Linked DNA regions of Homo sapiens: region 1 is linked to region 2. Evidence: fine-mapped expression QTL. A gene starts in region 2. The other region holds a variant in brackets. All regions are shown on one strand. Distances are from middle to middle.

What was found. PIP is the estimated chance that this variant, and not a neighbour inherited with it, causes the effect. A credible set is the group of variants that fine-mapping cannot tell apart.
Region 1: its variant is the best candidate, but not a certain one, in a credible set for the expression of GALNTL5 in caudate (GTEx, PIP 0.61).

Annotation. Positions count from the first base shown.
Region 1 is chr7:152,004,705-152,010,084 of GRCh38, forward strand. GALNTL5 (polypeptide N-acetylgalactosaminyltransferase like 5) reads left to right here. Exons shown (of 9, transcript NM_145292.4): 7 at 3,123-3,240. Among named protein-coding and RNA genes, the nearest start is that of GALNT11, 18 kb to the right of the region's middle. The variant C/T (reference allele first, on the strand shown) is at 2,788.
Region 2 is chr7:151,954,011-151,959,390 of GRCh38, forward strand. GALNTL5 (polypeptide N-acetylgalactosaminyltransferase like 5) reads left to right here and starts at 2,436. Exons shown (of 9, transcript NM_145292.4): 1 at 2,436-2,599. It overlaps LOC105375570 (a long non-coding RNA gene), which reads right to left and starts at 912. Exons shown (of 3, transcript XR_007060597.1): 1 at 375-912. LOC105375571 (a long non-coding RNA gene) reads right to left here and starts at 2,335. Exons shown (of 2, transcript XR_928179.2): 1 at 2,241-2,335; 2 at 1,189-1,695.

The DNA.
Region 1 (5,380 bases), 51 kb after region 2:
TTCTCTTTCTGCTTCTGGATTGTTTCACTTAAGATAATGGCCTCCAGTTCCATCCATGTTGCAGCCAAAGACATCATTTTATTCTTTTTTATGGCTGAATAGTATTCCATTGTGTATATATACCACATTTTCTTTATCCAGTCTTCCACTGAGGGACACTTTAGTTGATCCCATGACTTTACAGTTGTGAATAGTGCTGTGATAAACATACAATGGCAGGTATCTTTTTGACACAGATGATTTCTTTCCCTTTAGGAAGATACCCAATAGTGAGAATGCTGGATTCAATGGTAGTTCTACTTTTAGTTCGTTGAGAAATCTCTGTATTGTTTTCCACAGCGGTTGTACTAATTTACATTCCTACCAACACTGTGCAAGCGTTCCCTTTTCTCCTCATCCTCGCCAGCATCTGTTACATATTAGTCATGGTATTAATTAGCATTCATATCTGAAGATACATTTTTCCCTTAGTTCTAATGACGACCAAAAAAGCTAGGTGCAATGAGTTTTGGAAAACTTAACACACACACACACAAAAAGCAAAATCATGCCTAGGGCTTAAGCCAATGATAACTCAAGACCTCCCCAGCTCCCTGACATGCAGGCATCACCATGACCAAGGATCATGCCCTTTTCCCCCAGCCACCTGCCCTTTTCTAAGGGCAGAGCAAGGCCCTTTCACTTTCTCCCTGCTGTCTCAGACCACAGCTGACTCCAACGTTTTCGGCCTGCACACCAAATGGACGGAACTGCAGTGCCCTGAGATGAGAAATACCATGAGTGGAGCAGGTTTTTGGCAGGAAGATTCTCTTTGGGGCATATTTGAGATGTCTATTTGGCATTCAAGTGGGGATGTGAAGTAGGTAGTTGGATGCAGTTGGATACATGAGTCCCTTATGAGATGGATGGGCCAGAAGGACCTACTAAACCAATCTGGTGAGATTTCTTCTGGTTTTGGAAAAATATAGAATATGTATATTGAGACCCAGGGGGAAAAAGCCTCCAGAGATTATTCTTTCAAGTTCTTAGGCTTAATCAAATTGTTCTGTTACTTGCTTCTAGAAGTCTTTAATACAGTAATAGAATTATTGTCAATAGAATTACTTAGGACTCAATCTATAACATGATATGACATTTATCTTCATATCATCTATAACTCTTTGATTCTCTGGTACTGAACACAATCCTATATGGATTCAATCATGAGTCTGGAGTTTTGAGAGAGGTCAGGGCTGGAGGCATCCTTTGGGAGTCATGGATAGGATGGATGAGAATCACTATGTGGGTGAGTGGAGAAGTGTAGAGGACCAGCCCTGAGCCCTGGGTGCTTCAACATTGACAGTTGAGAGGAGGAGAGGAACTGGCAAAGGAGATGGGAAGGAGCAACCAGGGAGGGAGGAGAAGGACCAGGAAATCTGGTTCCCTGGAGGCCCAGGGAGGCATGTGTGTCCAAGAGAAGGGTGTGGCCAGCAGCATCCAACACAGTGGCTGGATCAGCGAGAGAAGGACTGGAAATGAGCATTGGACTAAACCATGAGAAGGTCATGAACAAGTCTTAATTGTGAATGGCGGGAGGCGAAGCCTGATGGAAGGGAGTTTAAGGGAATTAGAGATAGTGATGGACAAATCTTTCTAAGGCTTTAATACGAAAGAGAGAAAAGGGGACATAACTGACAGGAAGTGGGGTCAAAATAAGGCGGTTTTAATTTTGTAATTGGCAGAGATAACAGCATGACTGGATTCTGATAGGAATGTTCCTATCTGGTGCACTCGGCAATGTGTGTCACATCTGGTGCAGTAGGCACCCCACACCCGACCCATAAGCAAATCTGTTAGCTCCATCTCCAAAATATGCCAGGAATTCAACCGCATCTTACTACCTACATTGCTGCATTCTTATCCCGGATCCCATTATTTTTCTCTGCAGCCCCTCTAATTGGCTTCCCTACCCTTTCCCCTACACATGGGTCTTGGTTTGTGTGTTGAGTGACTCATATCCCTAAAACATAGGTGCTCAATAAATACTTATTTGAACAAATGAATGTAAACTTGTGATTATTTTTCTTTTTCTTTTTTTTGGGGGGGGCGGGACAGATTCTCACTCTGTTGCCCAGGCTGGAGTGCAGTGGTGCGATCTCAGCTCACTGCAGCCTCCCAGGTTCAAGCGATTCTCATGCCACAGTGTCCTGGGTAGCTGGGATTACAGGCGCGGGCAACTGCATCTGGCTAATTTTTGTATTTTTCGTAGAGATGGGGTTTCACCATGTTGGCCAGGCTGGTCTTGAACTCCTGACCTCAAATGATCCACCAGCCTCAGCCTCCCAAGTGTTGGGATTACAGGTGTGAGCCACCACACCCAGCTGTGACTATTTTCAAACTACTTAGTTTGGTATTATTTGGCCCTACTATTGGTGGACAAAACAAGATGCTTCTTAATATTATGGTTTGTCCAGAAGTAAATATTACAATTCACCTAATGTCTTTAGAAAGGGAGAGCTCTGAGCCCTGCTACCCAGTTCAATTGTCATCCTCATGGGAAACTTACATTCCAAATATCATTTTCCTTCTCATTAGGAAAACATTTAGAATATATCGCATACACATTTTGGTGAGAACTAAGTAAAAGTTATTGCCTACTTTTGTTGTGGTTTTTAGTAATTTTATATACTTAAATGTATAATAGGATAATTTTAGTATTAATGTTTTCTCTTTTTTTTTTTTTTTTTTTTTTGAGACAGAGTCTGGCTCTGTCGTCCCAGGCTGGAGTGCTGTGGCACGATCTCAGCT[C/T]ACTGCAACCTCTGCCTCCCAGGTACAAGCGATTCTCCTGCCTCAGCCTCCCGAGTAGCTGGGACTACAGGCGCATGCCACCTTGCCTGGCTAATTTTTTGTATTTTTAGTAGAGACGGGGTTTCACTGTGTTAGCCAGGATGGTCTCGATCTCCTGAACTCGTAATGCACCCGCCTCGGCCTCCCAAAGTGCTGGGATTACAGGCATGAGCCTCCACACCCGGCCTGTTTTCTCATTTTAAACTATAAGTTATTACTAATTTAATATAATTTTGAGGAAACTACAGAATGACTTTCTCTGTGAAATTAATTTCATATTTATGTCCCCTTTCTAGGTCACCTGCAATGTCTGGAGGAATTTTTGCTATACGTCGGCATTATTTTAATGAAATTGGACAGTATGACAAGGATATGGATTTTTGGGGAAGAGAAAATTTGGAACTTTCACTAAGGGTAATTCAGATTTCATTTTTAAAATAGCTATAGAGAGTGAAACCTAACTTTGTCACATACAATGCTGTGGTAATTATGCTCAATTTTCCTACATGAACATCCAGTACCATTCCAGCAGCACATGCAATAAACAATTTATGGGGCTCCTTGTAAAAATGGAAAACATTTAATAAAATATTAGATTCTTGGCCTGGTGTGGTGGCTCATGCCTGTAATCTCAGCACTTTGGGAGGCTGAGGCAAGTGGATTGTTTGAAGCCAGGAGTTCAAGACCAGCCTCAGCAACATAGCAAGACCCCCATCTCTACTTTTTTTTTTTATGAGATGTGGTCTCGCTATGTTGCCCAGGGTGGTCTTGAACTCCTGAGCTCAAGTAATCCTCCCATCTCGGCCTCCCAAAGCACTGAGATTACAGGTGTGAGCTACTGTGCCTAGACTCTACTTCTTAAAATAAATATATTTAATTTAATTTAAAAATATTTGGTTCTTATACCATATGTTTTGTTATTTCTGATGTATGGTATATCAAATTAATATAATATTTTAAATCTATTGTCTTTATTGTCTCAGTAGTTGTGTTTTTTCCAATTTTTTCTGTTTTGGATTTTATTTTCTCTCTCTTTTCCTTCCTTCTTTTGGCCAGTTATTTGTTCACTTTTAAAGTTCCCAAGCAGACTTCTTTCATAATGCTTCAGATACTTGATTATGCATATAAAAATATCTAGAACAATATAGTTTCCTCCAAGCCTCTATCTGATGGTCCCTCTTAAGCTTGTTGTTTTTGTTGTTTGTTTGTTTGTTTGTTTGCTTGCTTTGTTTTTTTCATTCTCATGTTCCCTTTGGACGTAGGCATTATTTTATAACGCTCATGCCTTTGGCGCATTTTATTCTGTTTAGTTGATTATTCCTTGTTTTATTATATTGCACTCTAAGAAAATGGCTCAAGGAGTTCACCTCCTTTCAGGATCTAATAACTGTGATCAGTTTTGTGTATTATACAGGCAGAGTTGGAGAGTCAGTATATTCCTTTTTCTGGCCCTACATTCCCTATAGATAGCAAATGACAACTAATTTATTATTCAAACATTAATTATTCCTACTCCAATATTTCAATGGCGCCTTTCCTGATGGCCTGTCATATCTTTTAAATATACTTGGGTGTCTTTTTATAAAGAAGTATGTAAATTAATAAGTAGCTGAAATATTCTCTTGACACTGGCAGCTGTCTCTAACCACGACAAGTAACCTTGTCTTTCCTGAGAAAAGAATGATCTCTGCACCTGCATACACCTCTTCATTTCTCGTTTACTCCTCATTCCAGTAAATCGATATCCTGGAAGGCCCTCAGCTTTCCGTGACATCGTTCCAGGAACTGCCACCAGTTTTGTAGTGATGTCCTTAATGGATGGCTTTTGATCTTCCATCTATCTGAGGTCATTGCAGCATCTGACACTAAACTGTCTTTTCTGGAAGTTTTCTTGGACGTTAGGACAATATTCCTGGTTTGCCTTCCATTGCTCAGTTGTTCTCAGTTTCCTTTGTAGGAATTTCTGCTGTGGCTCATCTCTTAGACACAGGTGTCCCCAAGGTTTCCATCCTTGTCAGACTTTGCTTCTTACCCCATGTGCTCTTCAGGGCTCAGGGCTAGCATCCAGGTCCTCTGCTCCTGTGAAGCCACACTGGTTGTTAACATAATGCAGTCTTTCTGCATCTGGTGTGAAAAAACCTCTACTCTGAGCCAACCAAATACCTTCCACCTGCAGCCCAACCATAGGTCTACGCTCCCTGGACCTTCCCATGTTCCAGTAACTAAGGGAATAGCACTTGGCAGGGCAAGTCTACTCTGATCGCCGAGGGTCTGTGCCACACCCTTGTTGATATTTTTAGTAGGATACTTGCATCAGTCCCCATGGCTGTAACTAATACCTGTATCACGATAATATCCAACTCTATAGTTTCAGTTTAGGACTATCTCTTGAGAGTAATATTTAAGCTCAATCTAGCCATCATTTAAGGAGCACTTCCTTTAAGTCAAACTGTGCTGTATGCTGAGCATTGAGAAGAAGACACAGTCTTCATTAATTCATCCATGCAACAATATGTATTGAGTACTGTTATGTATGAAGCACTGTGCTGGGTGC
Region 2 (5,380 bases):
TAGCGAGGTCTTGCCTTTACGAAAACTAATATAAAATAAAAAAATTAGCTGGGTGTGGTGGCACATTCCTGCAGTCCCAGCCACTTAAGAGGTTGAGGCAGGAAGATTGCTTCAGCCTGAGAGGTCAAGGCTGCAGTGAGCCATGATCACACCAGCAGTGGTGTGATCCAGCCTGGGCAACAGAGCAAGACTCTGTCTCAAATATATAAATAAAAATATAAATAAATAAACACAATTTGAACTATTGTCCTTGAATACGGTATATGTGCACCTTTCTCAGAAAGAAAGATTTTACTTTATTACACCAAGCAAACTGTGTAATGGTTGCAAAACTCCCACAATAAAATCTTTGTCCAAAAGTTGTGTTGACTCACTTTTTTTCCCTCGTGTTTTGAGGATACGACATACATACAGTGAAGTATATACACTTTCAGTGACCAGCCCAATGCACGTTTGTACAAGTAGGCTCCGTGAAGCCTTCACTCCCCCAGATCAAGAAGACCCAGAACATTCCAGCACTCCAAAAGGCTCTCTCTTGCTCCCTCTCAGTAACCAGCAATCCTGTTCTGGCTCCCAAACACAGCTACTTGTTACTGATAGATAGATAAACTGTTCTATCACTTTAGAGTAGCTTTGCCTTTTCTTGCTCCCTTCCACATGCTGTAGGAATTTGGGTTGTGACCTCAGCAAGCCCTCGTTCTGCAGAAACTTCACAGAAATAGAATCGCGCTCTCCCATGAGCTGCTTCGGTCTCACGCCATGTCTGCGAGATGCATCCATGTTGTATGCAGCTGCAGTCTGGTCTTTTTCACTGCTGGTTTGCATTGCATTATATGAATATGCCACAGTGGGTCCATTCTACTACAGATGGACATTTGGGTTTTTTCCAGTTTGAGGCTAATATGAATAAAAGCTTACTTTTATATTATTAATGGGCAAGAAGGACCTTCCCATCGAGCCTGCAGAAAGGAGACTCATGAGTTTGGCTTGGACGTCATTAATGCCCGTCCGTCTGCCCCAGGAGGTCATTATAGCCCATTATGTTGTTACCGAGCAAAAGAGGTCACTGACCCGTGCGCTAGAAGCCAATAAATACTAAGACACTGGGTTTCAGAGAAAAGAAAAGCTTTTCATTGCAAATTGACCAACACGGAGACAGGAGTCCAGCTCAAATCTGTCTCGCTGTGCTGCCTTTAAGGAAATAATTTTATTAGAAAAGGGTTAGAGGGTGGGTTCCGGGATTAGCAGGAGATCGGTGGAAGGAAAGAGGAGGTCTGGCAAGTCCTCAGACATGCGCAGTTATCTCTTCATGCTTCCTCATGGGTGCTGTGTGCAAATCAAATTCCGGGGCAGTTAATACGAAACATGCGTGGAAATTCAGGCTGTGATATCAGCAAGCTCTTTCTGCAGAAACTCCAGTTGGCCATATTGGGTCCAACTGATTTCTGCCAGTTTTGTTATCACTTGTCACAGTTTCAGTATCTACCCCAGGAGGTCACGATTGCCCATTGTGTCTGTCCCAGGAGAGGTTGCGAGAGGTTCCCACCCACCCCCTTCCACTCACAGACCCTGAAGCAGAGCTTGTCTGGTTTCAGGCAAAACAGAGTCAGCATCCTGAAGCGGGGAGGGTCAAGTCTCCTGGGATGCGTTCAGAAGAAATTTCACAAGCATTTGGCTGAACTTGTGTACTGACATCTAAATGTTGAGTAACGTAGAGTAAAGAATTAAAAGGCAATCAAATAACCCTTTGGCTCATCTTTAAGTTTCTTCATGTTTTCTGAAAGCTTGTTCTTTTTCTTAAGTTTATTTCAAAAATGCTAAAAATTAGCCGGGCGCGGTGGCTCACGCCTGTAATCCCAGCACTTTGGGAGGCCGAGTCGGGCCGATCACGAGGTCCGGAGATGGAGACCATCCTGGCTAACACGGTGAAACCCCATCTCTATTAAAAATACAAAAAATTAGCCGGGCGTGGTGGTGGGCGCCTGTAGTCCCAGCTACTCCGGAGGCTGAGACAGGAGAATGGCGTGAACCCGGGAGGCGGAGCTTGCAGTGAGCGGAGATCGCAGAGATTGCAGAGATTGCACCACTGCACTCCATCCTGGGGGACAGAGCGAGACTCCATCTCAAAAATAAATAAATAAATAAATAAATAAATAAATAAATAAATAAATAAATAAATATAAAAAGCTAAAAATTAGGCCTTGCCTAGAGAAGAGAGTCACCCTGGATTCTAGCCTCACCTAATATGAGGCTTTCCCTATTTTCTCAGCTGAGGGGTAAGGACCCTTAGGACCTTGGAACTCCTGGATTCCACCTGCTGGTTGGAGCTTACAGGCAGGGGCCCCTGTGGGGCTGTGACGCCCTGTGTGATGTCATCAGGCTTTGTGAGGGGGACTGTACTGCCCTTTGAGTACTACTGTGTGGCCCCGCAACCCAGCACAACCAGGTATCTGCTTGGAACCCAGCCACCATAAAGCCTGCTAGCTAAAAAAAATTTTACATCTCTCAGTTCATTCGGCACAGACCCCTGCCTCATTCAGCTGTGACTCTGCTTGGAAAATTCATCAGTTACAAAGCAGCCAATGCAATTATCTCAAGGGTAGGTGAAGTGAGCCCCATGTGCTAGAAGTGGGAACAAAGATGGGGGGAAACGTCTTTCACTTTGAATCAGCGGAAGCAGTACATCAAATCACTGCGTCTTGAAGGAGGTGCTAGCTCTGGGGATTAGGTTTAAGAAGATTTATTTTATTTTTTAAAGAAGGAGTAGCCTCCTAGCTGGTTACACCACCCTAAACGTGGACTGGGCATTGTAATGGCTTTAGTTCATGAAAAATAGGGAAACTTTTCATTACATGTGTCTTTATGCTGGTAATGTTTATACAGTGACTGTATTACTTATTTGAAAAAAATAGGGAAATAAAGGCCCTTAGCAGTGTCATAAAGTCCTAGATCTTATATGGAGATCAGTATTAAGATGGTCCTAGGAAAGCTAGGGGTTAAAAATGCTGATTATAAACTGGGCACGGCAGCTGGCATCTGTAATTCCAGCTCCTGGGAGGCTAAGGTGGCAGGACCATGTGAGTCCAGGAGTTCAAGATCAGCTTGGATGAAAGAGTGAGACTCTGTCTCGAGAAAAAAAAAAAAAAAAAGGAAAAAAAGTGTTGATTATTGACAGAAGAATTAGTTGTGATATTATCTAAAGCATGGTCATGTTTTCCTGATTCAATAGACTCGTATTTTTTTAAAAACTTGGCCAGGCATGGTAGCTCATGCCTGTAATCCCAGCACTTTTGGGGGCCAAGGCAGAAGGATCACTTGAGCTCAGGAGTTTGAGACCAGCCTGGGCAACATAGCAAGACCTCATCTCTATTTAAAAAAAAAAAAAAAAAACAGGCGTGGTGGCACTCACCAGCCTGTAGTACCAGCTACTTGGGAGGCTGAAAGAGGAGGATCATTTGAGCCTGGGAAGTCAAGGCTGCAGTGAGCTGTAATTGGGCCACTGCACCCCAACCTGGGCAGCAGAGCGAGACCCTGTCTCAAAAAAAAAAAAGAAAAGAAAAAAAAAAAGAAAGAAACTCAATGACTGTAAATGCAGATTTAGGCTAGGGTTTTGGCGTGTTGGTGGGGGCATGTTGGTGACTATTAGCTGCATTCTTTTCTCTACAGGATTCTTTTGATCATCTGCTAAGTCTCTTTAATGCACTTAAAATTTTATTTGCTGTACATATGAATCCTCGTTGAAATATATTTTACAAATTCTGTGCTTTTCTAGCATTGAATTCTGCATCTTTTAGTGAAGAAAATAACTGAACATGGTTTTCTTCTGAAGACACAAAGTCCAAAGGCCAATCACACACCTCTTACATCGATCTCTTGATAGGAGGGGTTTTCTGTGTTTTGTGGGAGTATAGGGGGTGGGTTGGGAGGTGAGGTGCTTGTCACAGAGAAAACATAATATAAGAACTCATATTAGTAAAATAAGAAAATTAAGGAGGTTGGGGATATGTTCATAAGTGTTCACGTCTAAAGAGAATTCCCCCCAAGTTTTCCTGATGTATTAGAATCTTTCTAGAGAATAATTTATTTTTCAGTAATAATCCTATTGAGACAGGATTCTTTCAATGTCACTTTGCCAGCTGGACATTTCCCGGCTGGCAGCACCCGTCCTTGGGCCTCACTTGGCTCTAGGCTCACCTCTGGGCTTGCTCTCCCCACTGGACGCAGCAGGCTGCACTCGGCTGGCACTACCGACCTAGATTCTGCACACACACACCACTCTGTGCTTAGCCCATGGCTGGTCTGAGTGTGCCACAACCATCTTCCACCTTGGGCACCAGCATCTGGATGAGGGGGAACATGGTGGTGCCTGAAAACTCAGAGATGCCAACCGCCACAGAGCCCCAAGGGGTGTTACAGCTCTCACCTGGGGAGTCCCAAGGTCTGAGCCCCCAAGGACTGTTACAGCTCTCTGTCTCCTTCCTGCCACCTGCAGCATAGTGAAACGGGGTTGGGGAGGGGGGTGTGTTATGGCTTGTTTGGTTGCGGCAAACAGTGCAAGGGGTGTGTTGCAGCTCATTTGTGCTACAGCTCATTCTGTCCCACCATCCTGCTCCAGCCCACTGGTGCTCCTAGGCTGGCCCAGCCCTACCACCACTTCCCATGATGTGGGGTGGCCATCTGGCACTGGCAGAAGGTGGGAAGGTTACAGTGTTACAGCTCCTTTTGCACCCATCATTCGGTGGGTCCCAGGTCCTTGTCCTGCGTCCAAGAAGAATGAGGTTACACAGACACTGGAGAGTCAGCAAGGCAGAGAAGGGTTTTATTGAGCAACAGAACAGCTCTTGACACAAGAGGGGATCCAAAGTGGGTAGCCCTCTGTGTGAGAGGGGGCTCAAAGATGGATAGTCCCAACATGGGGCTGAGTCTGGGGTTTTCATGGGCTCAGAATGGGGAAGTACATGCTGGAAAGAGCACCAGTCCTTCCAGGTGGGCCTGGAAATAACACCATTTGATTGGCTACAAGGCATTGAGGAAGTTCTCACTCCGGTCGTGGACTCTGGCAACTCAGTTTTCAGGCTTTAAGCTGTCTTTGGCTTGAAGGTTGGATTTCACTGGGGACCTGCCCCTCTCTGCCTAGGAATTTGTCTGTCTCCTGTTGCTATCACTATCATATTAGTGCATGTGTTTATTTTGTATATTACATTTGGTTGTCTCCCCTTACCTTTTTTTTTTAACTAGTTTCTAATTGCTTTTGGTTTTTGGAGAAAGTTGACATGGAAGTTAACTTTAGATAACTTTAAAATTTAGATATTTAATAGGGAGATATGGTGGTAATGTAAATTAAAACAGCTTTATTCTCTTTTCAGGCGTCCTAATTCGC